4 linked regions of the Homo sapiens genome follow. The protein of the gene in region 4 purifies or fractionates together with the protein of the main gene of each other region. This does not show direct contact. Each region holds a gene or a part of one and is shown on either strand. Other genes may lie near its edges.

Region 1 (5,337 bases), on a different chromosome or scaffold from region 4:
CCTGGGTGACTAGAGTGAGACCCTATCTTAAAAAAAAGAAATTAATTTTTAGGGCACCATGCAGAGGTCATAAGATCTCAGAGTAAACAAGCAAATGGAGCTGAAAACATGGGTTGTTTGAATGCAACTGCAGAGACTATAGGAAATTGTAAAAATTGAGGTTCTGAGCATAAAGTGTAAAAATGCATTTCAGCAGGTTATGTGACTTGTAGATGTGGTTATTTTGTGCATATTTTAAATGCTGGCCATCACTGTGCTGCTCATGTGGGCTGCTCTTGCCCCTGCCTTCCAATTTTAAAGGCCACAGGAAAATTATATAGAGAGGGAAGAAACAGGTAGTGAGGTATATGGAGCTCAGGAGCCCACACACCAGCAGCAGCTAGCCCAGTCTTTAGGACCCAGAAAACAAGTAACACGTGTCAGGGCCTCCTGAAGAAAAAGGTGACCAGCCACCAGGGTGGGAGGAAGAGGCTGTGTTCATGACCAAAGGCTCAAACAGGGACTAATGCAAAGCTCACAAAAATATGAGAAATAGAAGTAGGGAAAAACAAAAGCTGAGACTGTAAGCAAGGGGCTGCTGTCACCTGTTCTTTTAGATGGAAGGCAAAAACTGTGCCCACCTGAGCTGCTGGGTTGGGCGTATCCTGCGTAAATGATCCTGCATAAATCCTGCAAAAGCTGTTAGAATAAGGTATCAAAAAGGCCATTTTTCTTTTCCTTCCAACACATACACCTAAGGAATCAAGCTCTGCTGAAGCACAGGAAGATAGGGGACAGTCAAGAGCACAGGCTGCCAGGTCAGGTGGAGCTGTGTTCAACTCCGGCTCTGCCACTGAGTGACTTCACTGCTGCATGCTGGTCTCCACATGCTTATCTCAGCAGGCCACCTGAGGGTGCAAGAATGGTGCACATGAGGTGCTTAGCAGCCCGCAAGAGGTCATTGGTAGTTCTTATCGCCATCACCTGCTCTGCTCTAGCAACGGGGGTGAGAGGGACCAAGGGTGTCAGAGCTGTGCTGCCACTGCTGAAGCAGCCTCCCCCGCATGGTGGGAAGGCCCTGCCCCGAGCCCTTCCTTCTGGCCGCAGACACTGCAGAATGAGATTCTGGGCCATACGCCGCGGGTTGAGGATGTGCTGCAGAGAGGGCAGCAGCTGGTGGAGGCGGCGGAGATCGACTGCCAGGACCTTGAGGAGCGCCTGGGGCACCTGCAGAGCTCCTGGGACAGGCTGCGGGAGGCAGCGGCCGGGAGGCTGCAGCGACTGAGGGACGCCAACGAGGCACAGCAGTACTACCTGGATGCAGACGAGGCTGAGGCCTGGATTGGCGAGCAGGAGCTCTACGTCATCTCCGATGAGATCCCCAAGGTCTGTTCGGGCAGGGGATACCAGCCAGGGTGCCCAGGCAGAGAGGAAGAGTTGAGGTTGGCTGTCGGTAGGGAGCCTTGTGAGTCCAACTGTGTGAGGAGTGAGGCCAGGGGAGGGGCACAAGGAACCCACAGACTCCCTGCCCTCCCTTGGTGCCTCCTTGAACACACCCCTGCAGGGCACACACTGAAGCCAGGTGCCTCCTGTTTACCCACTTAGGTTTGCTCTAACCCAAGGGTTCTCTACTTTTCTTTACCCTGGATTCTGTACGCTATGAAAGAGATGGGGTGAGAGGTGACAGGTGGGGGTCTCTCAAAGCTGGAATGATATAGGATGTTTTCATGGGGACAGGGGTTAGAGCACAAAAGGAAGGGTATATGTCGGATACGAATCAGGGGAGTCCAGAGAGGAAGGTAGGGCACGGGCATTGCTGGGAAATCAGAAGGGCAGGAAGGAAGCATGTGTGGCTCTCCTGCGGGTGTCCCACAAGCCTACTCCCCTCCTCCCTCGGGCACCTCCAGGAGTGGGGGCACAACTTGCCAAGGGAGGGATCATGGCCAGACTGAGCTCTGGCGCTGACCGTCTGCTGCCTCCTAGGATGAAGAGGGCGCCATTGTGATGCTGAAGCGACATTTGCGGCAGCAGCGTGCGGTGGAGGACTACGGCCGGAACATCAAGCAGCTGGCCAGCCGGGCCCAGGGCCTGCTGTCTGCAGGCCACCCTGAGGGGTGCGTGCGCCCCCTGTGGTGACTCGGTCAGGAGATGGGGATTGAGCCAGGGGCCCACCAGCCAACGTCCCTTCAGATTTAAAAGGAAAATGGAAAGAGTTTTCCCATCAAATAGGGCTGGAGAAAATTGCTGCGGGACTGGTGATGGATCCAATTTCATTTTATGCCTTGGTTTTGTGTGAATCACTTCCAGCTGGGCCATCGAGGCCCTGGTTTTCGAAATGATCAGAGAAGGGGTTAGCAAAACTACCCTCTTGGTGACCTGAGAGCACCAATTTTCCGAAGGGTTACAATATGCTAAGGGACACTGAAGACTACTTTAGCTTTTATTTTTATGGTCCAGAAGGTCTCCAGGACTTCACAGTCCAGACAGAACCATGATGTAGGAGTGCAGGTGGAAACCTGTGCCCACATGGGCTGCGAGGTTTTGTGGATCCTGCATAAATGGAAGCCCACTGGGCCACAGACCACACACTGCCCCCAGCCATGGCCCTGTCCTCAGCTGCCATTAGGGTGCCCACCACTGTGGGTCCTCAGCAGCCACCCCAGAGGTTTCCCTGGGAGCCACATTGTCTGGGCCCCTAGTATGTCTTTTCCCTCCCTGGAGGGCTGAGCAGAGCTGTTGCTGCGGGAGCCCCACTCAGGTAGTGCTGCTCCCCCAGCCTCTCTGGAAGAACAATGGAGGCGTTCCCCATTTGCACTTGTCCCTGTAAGCTTGCCAGAGTGAGGGGCACCATGGGAAGCACCCCTCCAGGACAGAATTCCAGGACACAGTGTGTCATCCCCTGAGGCTAGGGTGTGGCCCCTTCTCTCCCCAGCTCTTCCCCGGCAAAGCCCCTGTCATTTCTCCAGAGCTTCACTCCCTACCTATCCCTGCCAGGGGGCTGTGGTTGGCATATGTTGGCTCCCTGGAGCCACGGCTCTGGGTTCGTGGCTGCCGTCTCTGAGGGCCTTTTTGGTTTTGAATTCCAGGGAACAGATCATCAGACTTCAGGGGCAAGTGGACAAGCACTACGCAGGGCTGAAGGACGTGGCGGAAGAGCGCAAGCGCAAGCTGGAGAACATGTACCACCTGTTCCAGCTCAAGCGGGAGACCGACGACCTGGAGCAGTGGATTTCAGAAAAGGAGCTAGTGGCCTCTTCCCCGGAAATGGGGCAAGACTTTGACCACGTGACTGTGAGTAGCCACAACTCCTGCTGTTTTTGTCTTTCTCTAATGCGGTAGACGCAGCCAGCCGTCACTCAAGACACACAGAGTGCTGCATAGGACGTAACCTCCCCAGTGTGAGGCGGGACCAGCCGATGCAGGCCTGCCCTGGGGAAGGTGTGACAGCGCAGCTCCCGGAGCTGCAGTTGCTGCCTGGGAAAGTCTTTGGCTAAGCTGGTGACACCTGTAACCCCTGTGCCCCCCATAACCACATTTCTGTCTGCCCCATGCCTAGCTTCTGCGGGACAAGTTCCGGGACTTTGCCCGGGAGACCGGGGCGATTGGGCAGGAGCGGGTGGACAATGTGAATGCCTTCATCGAGCGACTCATCGACGCGGGCCACAGCGAGGCGGCCACCATCGCCGAGTGGAAGGACGGGCTGAACGAGATGTGGGCAGACCTCCTGGAGCTCATTGACACGCGCATGCAGCTGCTGGCCGCCTCCTATGACCTGCACCGCTACTTCTACACGGGTGCCGAGATCCTGGGCCTCATCGACGAGAAGCACCGCGAGCTGCCCGAGGACGTGGGGCTGGACGCCAGCACGGCCGAGTCCTTCCACCGGGTGCACACAGCCTTCGAGCGGGAGCTCCACCTGCTGGGTGTCCAGGTACCTTCAGCCCCCTGCCGCCCACCTGCTACCAATTTCCAGGAGCCCTGGGTGTCAGTCCCCACCTGGCTGTCAGCAGGAAAACCTCTAGGATAAGTGCCAGGAGGTTTTGCCTCCTTAGACAGCCAGGAGCTCAGGGCTGGGAGCAGTGGCTTTCAGATGTTCCTTAGCTTCAGAAGTCATTCTTTAAACTGAATCCTCACAAAAGGCCAATGCATACAATACTATACGGTTGCAGTTTCTCCAGTTGTGCAGTACTATTAGTGGACACACGCACAGCACTTTTCTAGCACCAGGTGCTCTTCTGAGCAATGTATGTAGCCGCTGGACCCTCATGGCAGTCCTCTGAGGCAGCTACTAATATTCCCTGCACTTTGTAGATGAGAAAAGGGAGAGGTAGAAGACCCATAAGTTTCCCAGGAACATGTAGGTACGAAGTGGAGCCAGGGCTCAGACCCTGGCAGTCTAGCTATAGACCCCACATACTTAGCCACCGGGCACTTCAGCCTTTCCACATGGGAGCTGGAGAGCCCCCAAGTTCTACTGTTCAGACCCCTGCCCCATCACTGGAGTGCCCTCCGCAGATCCGTAGGGTGCCCCAGAGCTTGGTGTGATAGAAAGGGCAAATGCAAGGGGGCCCCTGTTGCTGAGGGCTCCCCCAGCTTCCAGTGCAGCAGGGAGAGGTAGGCTGGCTGCGCAATCCCAGGCCAGCCCTGCAGGGCTTGGGGACAGAACACCAGGGTTGGCTGGGCCCCTGGTTCATCCAAAAGGGGACCTCTTAGGGAAGTGTCCTCCAGCTGGAGTGGAGGGCCTGGTGTGTGGCTGTTGCATTTGGGGATGCCAGGGCCCCTGAGATAGGTGTAGCCCCACTGAGGTCTTAGGAGTGAGGTTTCACTGTCCCCAGGGCCAGCCTCAATCAGGGGATCTGGTGCAACCACTTCCTTGGAGAGGCAGCACACAGAATGGTTAAGAACGGGGACTCAGGAGCACGGTGCAAATCCCAGCTGTACCCCTTTACTAGTGTGAAGGACCCTGGACCAGTTACTTAGCTTCCTTGTGCCTCGTTTTCCCCATCTCAGAAACAGCAATAGTAATAGTACCTCCTTCCTGGGTTTGTTGGAAAGACGAAGAGAGTTCATCAGTAGAAAGTGTTTAGAACAGTGCCTGATATGTAGTTCCTCTCATTAGTGTATTGTTGAGGAGATCAAAGGGCAGGATTTCCTCTCACTCCCAAACCTTCACAAAGTTCAAGAGGTATCTTGGGTAGGCAGAGGTGTTAAAGCAAGGAGTCTTCTCCTACAGCACCCACTGGGTGGAGGCTGAAGATCCTACCTTCCAGCAGTGCCCTGGGCAGGGAGGCCAGGAGGAGGTAGCTGCCCTTCCAGTCCTAGGCCCACAGCACCTAGGGAGCAATGTCCAGGGAACAA
Region 2 (5,337 bases), on a different chromosome or scaffold from region 4:
TACTCTTCCTGGCAATCTTGGAATGAAATCTTACTCACATTTCCAAAGGCCTAAATTTAAAATCTCCTCTGCAAAGACTTCAATTCCTCTAGATCAGGGATTAACAAATCTTTCCTGTAAAAGGCCAATAGTAAATATTTTAGGCTTTGTAGAGGGCCATAAAGTCTCTAACTACTCACTCTGCCATAGTAGCACAAAAGCTGCATAAAAGAAGGGGTGTGGTGGTGTACAAGCAGCAGCTGAATTTGGTCCAAAGGCTATAGTTGCTGACTTCTGTCCTAGACAAAATTACAATTTACCACATAGTACTATAGCCTGTTGTCACCTATATTTACATTGTAAACTCCCTGAAAGAAGAACCTTTTAGTAACTTTTAATTAAGTCTTCTTCCCAACCCCAGTACAGTACCTAATACCAAAAAATTCAGTGTTAAATAAGCAAAATGAAGACAATAATACAGTATTACAATCTCAATCAGCAATAATAAGTAGTACATGTCAAAAATAGTGTACAAACGTTTGACTTATGTTAGTCTTAAAGACACTAATTCCTAAAATATCTATGTTACTCACTAGCCTCAGGCTGTCTTGACTCTAAACTTAAATTAAATATATTTTAAAGCTTTTTTCCAGTACTAGGAAGAGTCTATAATAGTTAACTGCCAAACTTCATCCAGATATATCTGTGGAACAGTGTCCTTGGGTAGTTCATAAAACTAGGACTCAAATGTTATGATTTAGAATCATCTGTCCCAAAGTATAAAACATATTAATCTGTGGTCAGTGATTAGTTAAAAATAATCAACAAAAGGGGTAATACATAGTTCCTGAATGATTCCCAAACAGTAATACATTTTTATTTGACACCTGGTACTCTCCATAGGTAGCCTTAAGATAGCTAAGATACATGTTGACCCTGTCAAAAGGTTAATCTTTTAGTGTCAAAGCTGAAGTTTAGCCACATCTATTTATTCTAGAAGGAACCCAGTATTTCTGCTCTGTTAATAACATAGAACAGATGGGGTGTCAGGAAAAAGTGGAGGTGGCATGGGATTCTGGTCCCAACTGCCAATAAAAATCACAATTTTTGGCCGGGCGCGGTGGCTCACGCCTGTAATCCCAGCACTTTGGGAGGCCGAGGCGGGCGGATCACGAGGTCAGGAGATCGAGACCATCCCGGCTAAAACGGTGAAACCCCGTCTCTACTAAAAATACAAAAAATTAGCCGGGCGTAGTGGCGGGCGCCTGTAGTCCCAGCTACTTGGGAGGCTGAGGCAGGAGAATGGCGTGAACCCGGGAGGCGGAGCTTGCAGTGAGCCGAGATCCCGCCACTGCACTCCAGCCTGGGCGACAGAGCGAGACTCTGTCTCAAAAGAAAAAAAAAAAAAAAAAAAAAAAAATCACAATTTTTAAATTGTGTTCATTTAAGGTGAAATAACATATTTTGTAAAATTATTAGTGATGATACAGTGCTTACAATAGCCTTTATGAAAAAAGTCAATAAAAAATATACACAAAGTCTATTTTATGTCCCAGTGATGCATATATGATTATTTCGAGCCCCTGAAACAAAGACAATTTTTTAAAGTAATAATAATAGCAAATGCTTAGTAGCACTTACAACATGCTAGGCCCTTTTCTAGGTACTTCACATATCATTAACTTAATCCTTAGAAGAATCTCATGAGAGAATACAATGATCCCCACTTTATAGTTGAAAATGAGGCATGGGGTATTAAAAAGACCAAGTTCCAGAGCTGTAAAGTGGCAAAACCAAGGTATGAACCAAGGGAATCTGGTTCCAAGTGCTAAACCACTATACTGTACTAAACATACCTGGATTATAGCTCCTTCCTAATAGTACCATTTCCACTATATACAAACACCTTGTTTCTACAAATAAACAATCTAAGGTAAAACTAGGAATACTACGATCATAAACTTCAGGAGAGTGTCCATTCTGGGAGAACAAAAGGTGGCTCTCTCCCTTTCCTCAAATAATTAATTCTACAAATTAGAGGAAAAAAGGAAAATGTCCCCAATGGACAAGTTGCCTCTCTAAACAGTCATATATTAGTTCATAAGTTGAGGATCTTCTGTGCTGTGTTTTTTTTCTCTTAGGTTCATCATTTATTTTCCATCTCAACTGCTTATGACTTGAGCTTTTGGATTTAAAAAACTGACTAATGACATGAATCTAAATTTTCTCTGCGTCTACTAATTGCCATTTCTTTTTGCTTCCCCTATTGCTTCTTGATTAATATTTAAAATAAGGGGTTTGTGTATATAGCAGAATTTGTTTCCAAATTTTTAAAATATCTTAAAATACTTATATGATGTGCTTATATCGTGACCCATTGGTTTAGAGAAAAAAAAAAAAAGAAATAAACCTGAATATTTACATATTTTGTAGATAATATTCTAGACAATACATTTAAGTTATAATAGCAACATCCTTGCCTTCCGGACTCTTCTATTTTGAAAAAGCCTGGTCTATATATGCTATAAATAATTCACTAAAATCAACTATAAAAAAATTTAGCCATATTAAGCCTATGACACATTATCTTCAGTTGGTGGTACTAGGATGTTTTCTCCTGCTTCCAGTATGCCCACTGCCTCCTTTACTACTACCCTCTAAACAGATGACTTTATCCACTGAGATCAAGGTCATCCAGAGGATGTAGCCTCTCATAAACTTTGTCAACCTGAAGTCGTGCATTTCATCTACAGCCAAAGATACCAACTACTACCAGTTCCCTCTTCTCCCACTTAGCCAACAAAAATCACATACCAGAAAGGTCTTGGGAAACATTTTCCAAACAGCAGGATATCAAATTTTCTGTTTTATTAAGCAAAAATAATTTTTTGATCACCCTTCAAGTTTTATCACATAATATAAATACAAACAACTTGGAAAAGCATCTTTCTATAAAAAGCTACACAATAGTTCCTTGGTTAGAATCTTCACAACAAAACAAAAGACAAAACTATAAATCTCAGAGCAAAGCCATATTTTTTCTTTGAAAAAAAAACCAACAAAACAAAACTGAGTAAGAGTCACATTATACACCAGTGTTCTATAAGAAAATTCCATAACCTAGAGAATTTAAAATTTAAAAAGTGATATTAATCAGACAATTTCCTAACAGCTGCTGATTACAAAGACTATTAAAATACACACCAACTTCATTAAAATCTTCAAAGGTGATTTTCCCTGTGGCTTCTCTGTCATAATCTTTAAGAATCTTCAGTACATCAGCTTTTTTTACATCAAACCCCAAGGCTCTCATTGCCACCTTTTGGATTAAAAAGGAAAAGCAAATTATAAAGCACTCTTTACAAAAGAATTTCTAATTATTAAGTTTTTACATCTTAAGAGATGACAACACATTAATAAAATATAACTTTTTTGCATGTTTTACCTCTTTAAAATAGCAGTGATAGTGTAATTGTTCTTCACTACTGAAATTAAGTATGCATAAGTTTTTTCATTTATAAATTGCATTTTTTATATGACAAAGTAACCAACAAGTGTTTACAGATTTTACTATATAAAATGCACTAACTTATTGCACAGATAATTTGATTGTTATTTGTTCTGAAGGGATTAACAATCAAAATGAGAAAAAGGCGTGGCATAAATATTAAACAGTTACATGATAGAAGAGATAAAACATTAAAACAAGAATTATCATCAGTCTTTCCATGATTAGTTACCAGGTAAATGATAGGGCTAAGGACCCTGAGTTTAGAGAAAAAAGAGATTTTGTTACTAATAATAAGGAAGGAGACATATTACTGACTAGAGAAGTCTTATTTGGAAAGATTCAAACTGTTCCTTGAAGGATAGATGAAGAGGAGCAGTAGGGTATTTGGGAAGGATGACTGGTATTAAAAGAAACACTGAAACGAATAGGTTCGAAGGACAATGAACAGAGCAGTTTACCTCACCTGAATTAGAAAAGTTCAGGTGAGGTAAACTGCTCACCTGAATTAGGAGGTGAATTCCACCTTAATTAGAAGAGTTCAGGAGGAAGAAAGCAGTTAGCAAATGAAAAAAGTAGTTGGTGGCAAAAGTGTAGAGAACATTCAGTAGAAAGCAAAGGAATCTGAACTTTAAGTAGTATACAATGAGGAGTTATGGTTTATGAGCAATGAACAATTTATGAGCAATGGTGAAAGAATTTTTAAACTATCTAAATTCAGTGGTAGTGTACAAGGTGAACTAGTAAGAAATCATTTAGGAAGCTCCAGGTATGAAATAAGGTCCCAAACCAAGATAGTCAATGGTTACAAATGGAACAGACATTATAAAGGAAGATCAAATCTGGGTAACCAAAAAAAAAAAAAAACAAAAAAAACAGTGGGAAAAGAGAGCCAAAGAGGACTGCAAGATTGAGAAAGCTAGACTTAGCAGGCCTATTAACTGCTTTTATACATTCTATCCTGTCACTGCATAGTTCCTATCCCTACTTGGAATTCTAATGCTTAAAAATCCCTTACGAAATTACAAAAATTAAAACTACCAAATAAACACTTACATTCACCTATCCATTAAGGCCATTAAAAATCTCAAAATACTATCTTTCCCACTGTGCTGAAAGTAAGTCCCATTCTACCCTAAACCCAAATCTCTCCTTATACCCTGACAAATAATAATTTACAAATCTCTCCCTACACTTTGACATTCTAGGTCTTAAAGCTGACATTTTTACCTATTAGCATGTGTCAACATCAAACAGCACTAAAGTTGTTTGCACCAGAGAAAGTGGATTGAGACTATGTTACTAACAAATCCAAATTATAAGATTAAAAGACAACACTCCCACAGTCTGAAAACAGTATGAGTCACCAAGAAACAAAAACAAAAACAAAAAACAGTGAAAAGAAGATGGTAAGAATAAATTCCAGTTTGAAATCCTTTAATTATGACAGTGAAAAATAAGCACCTTCCCTGGGAATGTATTTTTACATTTAAAATACTATTCGTTTTCTCATGTGAAAAAGATTTTCTAAAAACTATGTTAGGAGTTCTCTTCAGTTTTATTACAGCATCTAACTATGAATGCTTAAAATGCCTTCATAGTTCCAAAACCAATTTAGTTAAAATAATTATTTAGAAATGTAATGTAAAGCAACTGTAAAAATGCAAATCATTTTAACACAGAAACAAATATTTTAAAGTATACCATTACCTTTAATTCATGATAATCTATTGCTTCATCTTTGTCTGTATCAAATAGTTCAAAAGCATCTTTAATTTCTTGTTTCTGTTCCTCAGACAGTTCTCTTCTTTTTTTCCTCTTTGTTTTGTCCACTACAAGCTCACTTCTAT
Region 3 (5,337 bases), on a different chromosome or scaffold from region 4:
TGTAGGGATCACTGGCCAGGATGGAGCAGGGTCCCTAGCGTGAGAGGGACGGACCACCCTGAGGAAGAGCTCAGAGGCAGAAGGGCCCTGTCTCTGCCACTTGTGTCTGAGCCCCCAAGATGCAGTTGAGTCTGGTAGGGAGGGAAAGAGAGAGGACCACGCATGTCCTGGGTCCACCTGTGGGGCCTTGGATCTTCCTCCTATTGGGAGACCCTCAGCTCAGCCTGGTCCTCAGCAGCTCACCCATCACACCACACATCCCCCTCATCCACCCGGACCCAGGCACAGACCCCACACCGAGACGTGCTCAGTTACACACACGCATGTGGACACAGCCTGTCCAGGCTGCAGATGTGGGGGCCTCTGCCTCTGAGACCTGGTGGATTTGGAGTTGCTCATGGCTCCCCAGGTCCCCTTGTTGCCTCCGCTGTGCGCACATCAGAGGCTGTGCCCTGGGCGTGACATGGGCCGAGCGAGGAGCTGTGGGTGATTGCTGGCTTCCACTGTTTCACCAGGGCAGGGGGCCTGGAGGTGGTCAGGGAGGCTCAGGCCGCCTGGGGGCTCTGGCGGGCAGTTGTAAACAGCATGTGCACTTGCTGGGCTATGCACAGGGCACCCCTCGCTCTCACCTGAGCCTCTGGTTTCCCGTGTCCTTCACCTCTGCCCCATGGGTGAGCCACCTGTTCCAACGTCCAGGGGTCTGTCTGTCAGCCTGAGCCTGTGCGCTGGGGCCGGTGCGTCCCGACCACCTGGAGCTCCTTGGGGTCACAGGTCAGGGGGCATGAATGTGAGCACTTGAGAGCCTTTCTGGGGGCGTCAACTCCTTGCCTCGGGGATAGGCCTGCCGGTGTTTTCAGCACCTCCGGGAGGGATCCTGTAGCAGGCGATGGCAGTGCCTTGGCCCCAGTGGTCAGTCAGGGTGGACTTGAGGAGGGCTGAGAAGTGGTCTCCGGCGAGACCTCGAGGATGGCGGGGGTGTGAAGCAGGAAGGGGCGGAGCTCCAGGTTCCTCAGTTCGTGGAGTGGCGTGACCCTCTCTCCCATGTTCTGACGTTTGGGGCAGGGACTGGAGAGGGATTTGATCGGGGGTCCTCTGGGTCGGGGCTCCCCTGACCCTTCTCTCTTCCCACAGGGTGCGGGGGGCAATGGCACTGCAGCTCTGGGCCCTGACCCTGCTGGGCCTGCTGGGCGCAGGTGCCAGCCTGAGGCCCCGCAAGCTGGACTTCTTCCGCAGCGAGAAAGAGCTGAACCACCTGGCTGTGGATGAGGCCTCAGGCGTGGTGTACCTGGGGGCGGTGAATGCCCTCTACCAGCTGGATGCGAAGCTGCAGCTGGAGCAGCAGGTGGCCACGGGCCCGGCCCTGGACAACAAGAAGTGCACGCCGCCCATCGAGGCCAGCCAGTGCCATGAGGCTGAGATGACTGACAATGTCAACCAGCTGCTGCTGCTCGACCCTCCCAGGAAGCGCCTGGTGGAGTGCGGCAGCCTCTTCAAGGGCATCTGCGCTCTGCGCGCCCTGAGCAACATCTCCCTCCGCCTGTTCTACGAGGACGGCAGCGGGGAGAAGTCTTTCGTGGCCAGCAATGATGAGGGCGTGGCCACAGTGGGGCTGGTGAGCTCCACGGGTCCTGGTGGTGACCGCGTGCTGTTTGTGGGCAAAGGCAATGGGCCACACGACAACGGCATCATCGTGAGCACTCGGCTGTTGGACCGGACTGACAGCAGGGAGGCCTTTGAAGCCTACACGGACCACGCCACCTACAAGGCCGGCTACCTGTCCACCAACACACAGCAGTTCGTGGCGGCCTTCGAGGACGGCCCCTACGTCTTCTTTGTCTTCAACCAGCAGGACAAGCACCCGGCCCGGAACCGCACGCTGCTGGCACGCATGTGCAGAGAAGACCCCAACTACTACTCCTACCTGGAGATGGACCTGCAGTGCCGGGACCCCGACATCCACGCCGCTGCCTTTGGCACCTGCCTGGCCGCCTCCGTGGCTGCGCCTGGCTCTGGCAGGGTGCTATATGCTGTCTTCAGCAGAGACAGCCGGAGCAGTGGGGGGCCCGGTGCGGGCCTCTGCCTGTTCCCGCTGGACAAGGTGCACGCCAAGATGGAGGCCAACCGCAACGCCTGTTACACAGGCACCCGGGAGGCCCGTGACATCTTCTACAAGCCCTTCCACGGCGATATCCAGTGCGGCGGCCACGCGCCGGTATGGGCCTCAGTGTGTTCTCGCAGGGCCCGGACTGCAGGCGTCCGTTCGTGGGTTTGCGTGTCCCAGCCTGCTGGGGAGGGTGCACGTGAGCAGTGTGGCCGTGGCTCTCGCCAGCCTGGGCGCTTGCGTGGGTGGGTGCCGCATCTCTCAATGCCATTCACGCTGGCGCCAGTCCCAGGCCTGTGTCGGGCACTGGGGAACACAACAGTGAGCACGGTGGGGCTCCCTGCCATGTGGGTTCTGTTCTCGGGGACGTGTGTAGGACGTGTGCCGGAGGGAAGGGAAGGGCCTGTCCCGAGTCTTGGAGCGCGAGTGGAGAGGGCCCTTCAGGACAGGGGGTCTGCCTGCCATTGACACGCTGTGGTCCGCAGGGCTCCAGCAAGAGCTTCCCATGTGGCTCGGAGCACCTGCCCTACCCGCTGGGCAGCCGCGACGGGCTCAGAGGCACAGCCGTGCTGCAGCGTGGAGGCCTGAACCTCACGGCCGTGACGGTCGCCGCCGAGAACAACCACACTGTTGCTTTTCTGGGCACCTCTGATGGCCGGATCCTCAAGGTTTGGCCCAGGCTGGGGCGGGGAGGCTCTGGAGGGCCCGTCTGTGCACAAGGCCCGTACCCTCACCGGCCTGCCCTCGCGCACACAGGTGTACCTCACCCCAGATGGCACCTCCTCAGAGTACGACTCTATCCTTGTGGAGATAAACAAGAGAGTCAAGCGCGACCTGGTACTGTCTGGAGACCTGGGCAGCCTGTACGCCATGACCCAGGACAAGGTGAGCCAGACGCAGCCCCGGAGAGCACTCTAGGCCAAGTGTGCCCGGTCATTGCATCCCAGGCCCTTAGGACAGGCCTGGGGGCCAGAGGAGGATGGGGTGCTGCAGAGCTGGGCCCTTCTCCTTGGTCTGGATGAGGGGTGGCTGGGTGGGTCCCGGGCAGTGCCTCCATCCTGTGTCTCTCTAGCACTGCCCCGTCTCTGCCGCTCCTTCTGTTTGTCCTTTGTGGTCTCAACCATGTCTCTCCCTCTGGCCCCGCCTCTGCCCTGTCCTGATGGAAGGGACCTGGGTTGGTGTCTGAGGCGTGTTGCTGAGGGTGGATGGGAAGACGGGGTCCCTGCACAGCCCATGTGAGCTCAGTCAGTGGAGAACATGGGCCTGGGCCCCAAGCTTGTGGGGGGTTAGTGCCAGAGACCCTCAGGCCAGCCCTAGGAGCACCCCTCGGAGGGAGCCAGTGTAGAGGACAGGAGCTGCCCCGGGAGACACCATAGCCAAGACCTCCAGGCTTCCCTGGGCTCCCATCGGGATCCTGGGCCAGGCATGGCCACCCAGAGCCAGAACTGTTTAATATCAAGCCTGAGGTGTCTGAGGCTCCCGAGGCCCCGGGACAGAGCTGGGTCAAGCTGGCGGTCTGGGGACATCTGGGGTCTGCGGAAGGCCCGTGCGGCCTCTGCTGTGGTCCCACTCACGGCCCCGCTGCCCTAGGTGTTCCGGCTGCCGGTGCAGGAGTGCCTGAGCTACCCGACCTGCACCCAGTGCCGCGACTCCCAGGACCCCTACTGCGGCTGGTGCGTCGTCGAGGGACGGTGAGTGCCTGGGGTGGCTCGGGGACACGGCCTGCCTCTGGGATCCCGGAAGGTCGTGGCCTGGGTCGGGGGGCACATCGCACTGTCCTGTCCCGGGAGAACAAGACTCCACCCTGGGCTGAGGCCGCCCCCTGCGCCTGCAGATGCACCCGGAAGGCCGAGTGTCCGCGGGCCGAGGAGGCCAGCCACTGGCTGTGGAGCCGAAGCAAGTCCTGCGTGGCCGTCACCAGCGCCCAGCCACAGAACATGAGCCGGCGGGCCCAGGGGGAGGTGCGTGGTGGGTCTGGGGTGGGGGTCCTGGGCCCCAGGCCGGGCCAGGTGGGGGCTCCCCCATGCTGGGAGCTGTTGGGACAGGCAGGGGAGGGCTCCACATCTCCCCCGCCTGGGCTCTGGGCACCGAGCCTTAGGGATGGAGCCCGCCCTCCATTGGTCCCCTGGACCCCTATGACCTGGGCGGGCAGGGGTGGGGCTTGTCCATATCCAGGGTGGACTCAGGCCCTGTCCCAGGAGTTGCTGGGGTGACCACAGAGAGGCCTGTATTGGAAGACGTGGAGTCGGGTTCTGGAGGCTCCACTGGGACGTGCGCCCACACACGCAGGGAGGTCGGGTCACCGGCAGGTGGGCTGACAGGACTCGGGGTTCCCAGTGTGAGCGGCACGGCCCCTCCCTCAGGTGCAGCTGACCGTCAGCCCCCTCCCTGCCCTGAGCGAGGAGGACGAGTTGCTGTGCCTTTTTGGGGAGTCGCCGCCACACCCCGCCCGCGTGGAGGGCGAGGCCGTCATCTGCAACTCCCCAAGCAGCATCCCCGTCACACCGCCAGGCCAGGGTGAGGCCCCTTCCCGAGCCCCCGGGTGGCCCTTCTCGGTCGCACGGGGCCCTGTGCACACGGGCTCTCGCCTCTGCTGGCCCCTGGGTGCAGGCTCTGCACAGGCACACTCCGCGGCTGCTCCGGGGGCCCAGCCTGAATGAAGCCTGTGGTGGGGTTGCTGTGCCTGTTGGGGAGGTTCTGGCTTCTTGGGCTGTCCGCAGCCACGCCCCCCAGGCCTGTAGCAAAGGTGACTTGTCTTCAGCCTGCTCCCTCATCACGTCCGGAGCGGCATGTGGGTGCCAGGCGCCAGGCCCCGTCGTCTCGGCAGACGCCCCTCACCCCTTCCTGCCATGTCCAGCTTCAGAGAGCAGGGCCGTTCCCAGAGGCTGCAGGGCCTCGCATGTGGGCCAGGGCAGGCGTCGCGCCCATGTCCCCTGAGTTTTGGGGGCAGTGGGGCCACGCAGTGACGTGGGCAGGGACCTGGCAGGTCCCACTCAGACTCCAAGGAGCCGCTGCCCTCAGTGCCTGCGGGAACAGAGGGTATGAAAGCAACCTGGACCCGGGGGAGAAAGGCAAGCCCGGTGCTGCGCCCGACACCCGAACCAAGATCTGATAGCAGGTGGCAGGTCCAGCCCAGCGTGAACGGGCGTCCTGGCAGCCCCACCCGAGATCTGATAGCAGGTGGCAGGCCCCGCCCAACATGAATGCGGGGCGTCCTGGCAGGGCCCCCTGAAGAC
Region 4 (3,347 bases):
CAGGTGCGGTAACTGAGGCACAGAAAGGCGATGTAACTTGGCCTTGGCTGGAAATGGCAGGATTTGAGCCTGGGGGTGGGGCTCAGAACCCTGCTCCTGCCGTTCTAGAATCTTTCCTCTCTGCAGGGTAAGGGCCCTCATGGACACCCACCAAACTGAGCAAAACATATAAGGAAGTAAGGGATCCTTTAAAAACAAATCTGGGCCAGGTGTGGTGGCTCACGCCTGTAATCCCAGCACTTTGGGAGCCTGAGGCAGGTGGAACACCTGAGGTCAGGAGTTTGAGACCAGCCTGGCCAACAGTGAAACCCTGTCTCTAGTAAAAATACAAAATTTAGGTGGGCATGATGGCGGGTGCCTGTAATCCCAGCTGCTCGGGAGGCTGAGGCAGGAGAATGGCATGAACCTGGGAGGCGGAGGTTGCAGGGAGCTGAGATCGCGCCACTGCATTCCAGCCTGGGCGACAGAGTGAAACTCCATCTCAAAATAAATAAATAAATCAATTAAAAAGATAAAAATAAATCAATCAATCCAGGCCGGGCTCGGTGGCTCACGCCTGTAATCCCAGCACTTTGGGAGGCTGAGGGCAGGCAGATCACCTGAGGTCAGGAGTTCGAGACCAGCCTGGCCAACAAGGGGAAACCCCGTCTCTACTAAAAATACAAAAATTAGCTGGGCGTGGTGGCGTGCACCTGTAGTCCCAGCTACTCTGGAGGCTGAGGCAGGAGAATCGCTTGAACCTGGGAGGCGGAGGTTGCAGTGAGCTGAGATGGAGCCACTGCACTCCAGCCTGGGCTACAGAGTGAGACTCCGTCTCAAAAAAATAATAAATAAATAAATCTGCTCACAAAATGGTTGCAGCAGCTGTCTGCCTCAACTGCTTGCCTGGTGGAGGGAGGGCTGCTCTGCAGAATGTGAGGCCACCAGGGCCGAGTTCTTTCAGCCTGGACTACAGCTGGGGAGCCGGGGATCCCGGGAGGGGGCTTCCTATCTCCAGGAGCACTAAGTCGGCTGAAGTCGGCTGGTTTGGGCATGAAACTTGCCTGATAAAAATTGGCATCAGCCGGGCTTGGTGGCTCAAGCCTGCAATCCTAGCTACTCGGGAGGCTGAGGCAGGAGAATCGCTTGAACCCAGGAGGTGGAGGTTGCAGTGAGCCCAGATTGTACCACTGCACTCCAGCCTGGGAGACAGAGTGAGACTCTGTCTCAAAACAAACAAACAAACAAACAAACAAAAATTGGCATCAAACTACCTCATTCCTGGAAGCAAATGGGGCCTTTGTGGGGTCCCTGGCAGATTCCCCACACCCCCGCATCCACCGAAACTGCCCATGAGAAAGGTTTCCTTGGTGGCTCCCACTGAACCCAGCAGTGAATCCTCTCTTTTTTGAGACAGTCCCGCTCTGTCGCCCAGACTGGAGTGCAGTGGTGCGATCTTGGCTCACTGCAACCTCCGCCTCCCGGGTTCAAGCAATTCTCCTGCCTCAGCCTCCCAAGTAGCTGGGTTATAGGCATGTGCCACCACGCCCGGCTAATTTTTGTATTTTTAGTAGCAACGGGGTTTCACCATGTTGGTCAGGCTGGTCTCAAACTCCTCAAATAATCCACCCTCCTCAGCCTCCCAAAGTGCTGGGATTACAAGGCGTGAGCTACCGCACCCGGCCACCATCAGAGAATCCTTAGCCCTGCTCCTACTGATCCCTCGATAACCCCGACCCTGGGCATCACTCCCTCCTACCTGACTGAGCCTGCACTTCACCCCAGGACCCCACTCTCCTGGCTCTCCTAGGTCTTATGGGGCCTTGCCCTCCTCCTCCTCTCCCTGGGGTTCAGCCTGTGGTCTTTCCTCTCCTCTAGCTGCTCTCCCTTCCTGGGCAGCCTCCCCCAGGCTTTACTGCACCCGTAGCTTCTAAATGTGCAGCTGCATTTAGGCTGCCCAGCTGGACTGCCTGCTCGGAGGAACTGCAGACGCATGCATCGCACTGCCTGCCGGACACCTCCACTAGGATGTCCCACTCCCGAACCCAGCTTGCTCCTTGTCATCTTGGCCAAGGGCAACTCCACCTTCCAGCTGCTCTGGTAAAAACTCCTCCCAGGCTGGGCGTGGTGGCTCACGCCTGTAATCCCAGCACTTTGGGAGGCCGAGGCGGGCGGATCACGAGGTCAGGAGATCAAGACCATCCTGGCTAACATGGTGAAACCCCGTCTCTACTAAAAATACAAAAAATTAGCCGGGCGTGGTGGCGGGCGCCTGTAGTCCCAGCTACTCAGGAGGCTGAGGCAGGAGAATGGTATCAACCTGGGAGGCAGAGCTTGTAGTGAGCCGAGATGGCGCCACTGCACTCCAGCCTGGGTGACAGAGCAAGACTCCGTTTCAAAAAACAAACAAACAAACAAAAAAACTCCTCCCTCCCACCCACATCCAATCCAACAAGAAACTCTGATCATCAGCAAACTCCGCCTTCTAGACCGATTCAGAATCAGCCCCCTTCTCGTCACCCCCACTGCTAGCACCCTGGCCCCAGGCACCACCATCTCTCCTGGTACCCAATGCCCAGAACAGCACCAGAACGAATGTGCTCAATCATTCGTTCTGAATGAATGGGCGGAGCAGCCTGCCTGGGTTCAAATCCCAGTGTTACCACTTTAATAGATGTGTATCTTTGGACGAGTGACTGGATCCGGGAATAATAATACTCCATAAGGTTGGCCGGGGGAGTAAATGAGTAAATACATGCAAGTACCAAGAACACTGCCTGGCACGTGGTCAGTCCTTAAAATTGTCACCGTTGTTGTTGTTGTTGCAAATACTGTCATGGGCTGTACCCTGCGGAAACTCGGAGGCCCTGGCAGCAGTGGGTGAGGGGCTGTGCCATGGCTAAAGGCAGCTGGAGCAGAGGAATTCAAGGGGCCACATCCCTGATGCCCATGAGCAGCCTCTGAGAACCAGCAGCCACGCAGAGCTGCTGGACTCTGACTTGACTGTTCATGCACCTTGGGCGGGCACAGGCTGGGGAGATGTAGCAGCCTCTGGCTCACCCAGCAACCTCAGGCAGAGCCGCCGTGGGAAGAGCCACAGTGTTCGGAGTCTGCAGCATAGGGTAGGCAAGGAGCACTGTACTGGGAGTCAGAAGGGCAGACGCTGCCACCAAATCCCTGTGCCAGCAACCCTGGGCAAGCCACTGCCCCACTCTGAGCCTCAGTTTCCCCATATATACACCAAAAGCTCTGGAATCAATATCATTTTGGGCCTGCCAAGCTCTGACAGTCAGCTGGGTCGAGGGTGGGTGGCAGAGTGGAGTGGCCTGGCTATGGGGGCTATGCCTCCCTGCCCCCCAGTACCTACC

What was found. Proteins that work in one complex are often made in the same cells at the same time.
Region 1: the proteins of RHOD (region 4) and SPTB purify together in Homo sapiens (affinity purification with mass spectrometry; 3 studies listed by BioGRID and IntAct, with this or other methods). This does not show direct contact.
Region 2: the proteins of RHOD (region 4) and CETN3 purify together in Homo sapiens (affinity purification with mass spectrometry; 3 studies listed by BioGRID and IntAct, with this or other methods). This does not show direct contact.
Region 3: the proteins of RHOD (region 4) and PLXNB2 purify together in Homo sapiens (affinity purification with mass spectrometry; 5 studies listed by BioGRID and IntAct, with this or other methods). This does not show direct contact.

What each region holds. Positions count from the first base shown.
Region 1 is NC_000014.9:64,771,153-64,776,489, reverse strand, and holds part of SPTB (spectrin beta chain, erythrocytic), read left to right. Parts: intron 1-738; coding exon of another isoform or gene 739-840; exon of another isoform or gene 841-1,071; intron 1,072-1,086; coding exon 1,087-1,365; intron 1,366-1,962; coding exon 1,963-2,093; intron 2,094-3,065; coding exon 3,066-3,270; intron 3,271-3,535; coding exon 3,536-3,910; intron 3,911-5,337.
Region 2 is NC_000005.10:90,402,502-90,407,838, forward strand, and holds part of CETN3 (centrin-3), read right to left. Parts: intron 5,334-5,337; coding exon 5,198-5,333; intron 3,299-5,197; coding exon 3,184-3,298; intron 1-3,183. UniProt on the Homo sapiens protein: Plays a fundamental role in microtubule-organizing center structure and function. As a component of the TREX-2 complex, involved in the export of mRNAs to the cytoplasm through the nuclear pores.
Region 3 is NC_000022.11:50,286,392-50,291,728, reverse strand, and holds part of PLXNB2 (plexin-B2 isoform 3 precursor), read left to right. Parts: intron 1-1,131; coding exon of another isoform or gene 1,132-1,144; coding exon 1,145-2,212; intron 2,213-2,586; coding exon 2,587-2,769; intron 2,770-2,857; coding exon 2,858-2,986; intron 2,987-3,691; coding exon 3,692-3,792; intron 3,793-3,935; coding exon 3,936-4,062; intron 4,063-4,464; coding exon 4,465-4,618; intron 4,619-5,337.
Region 4 is NC_000011.10:67,066,847-67,070,193, reverse strand, and holds part of RHOD (rho-related GTP-binding protein RhoD), read right to left. Parts: coding exon 3,347-3,347; intron 1-3,346. UniProt on the Homo sapiens protein: Involved in endosome dynamics. May coordinate membrane transport with the function of the cytoskeleton. Involved in the internalization and trafficking of activated tyrosine kinase receptors such as PDGFRB.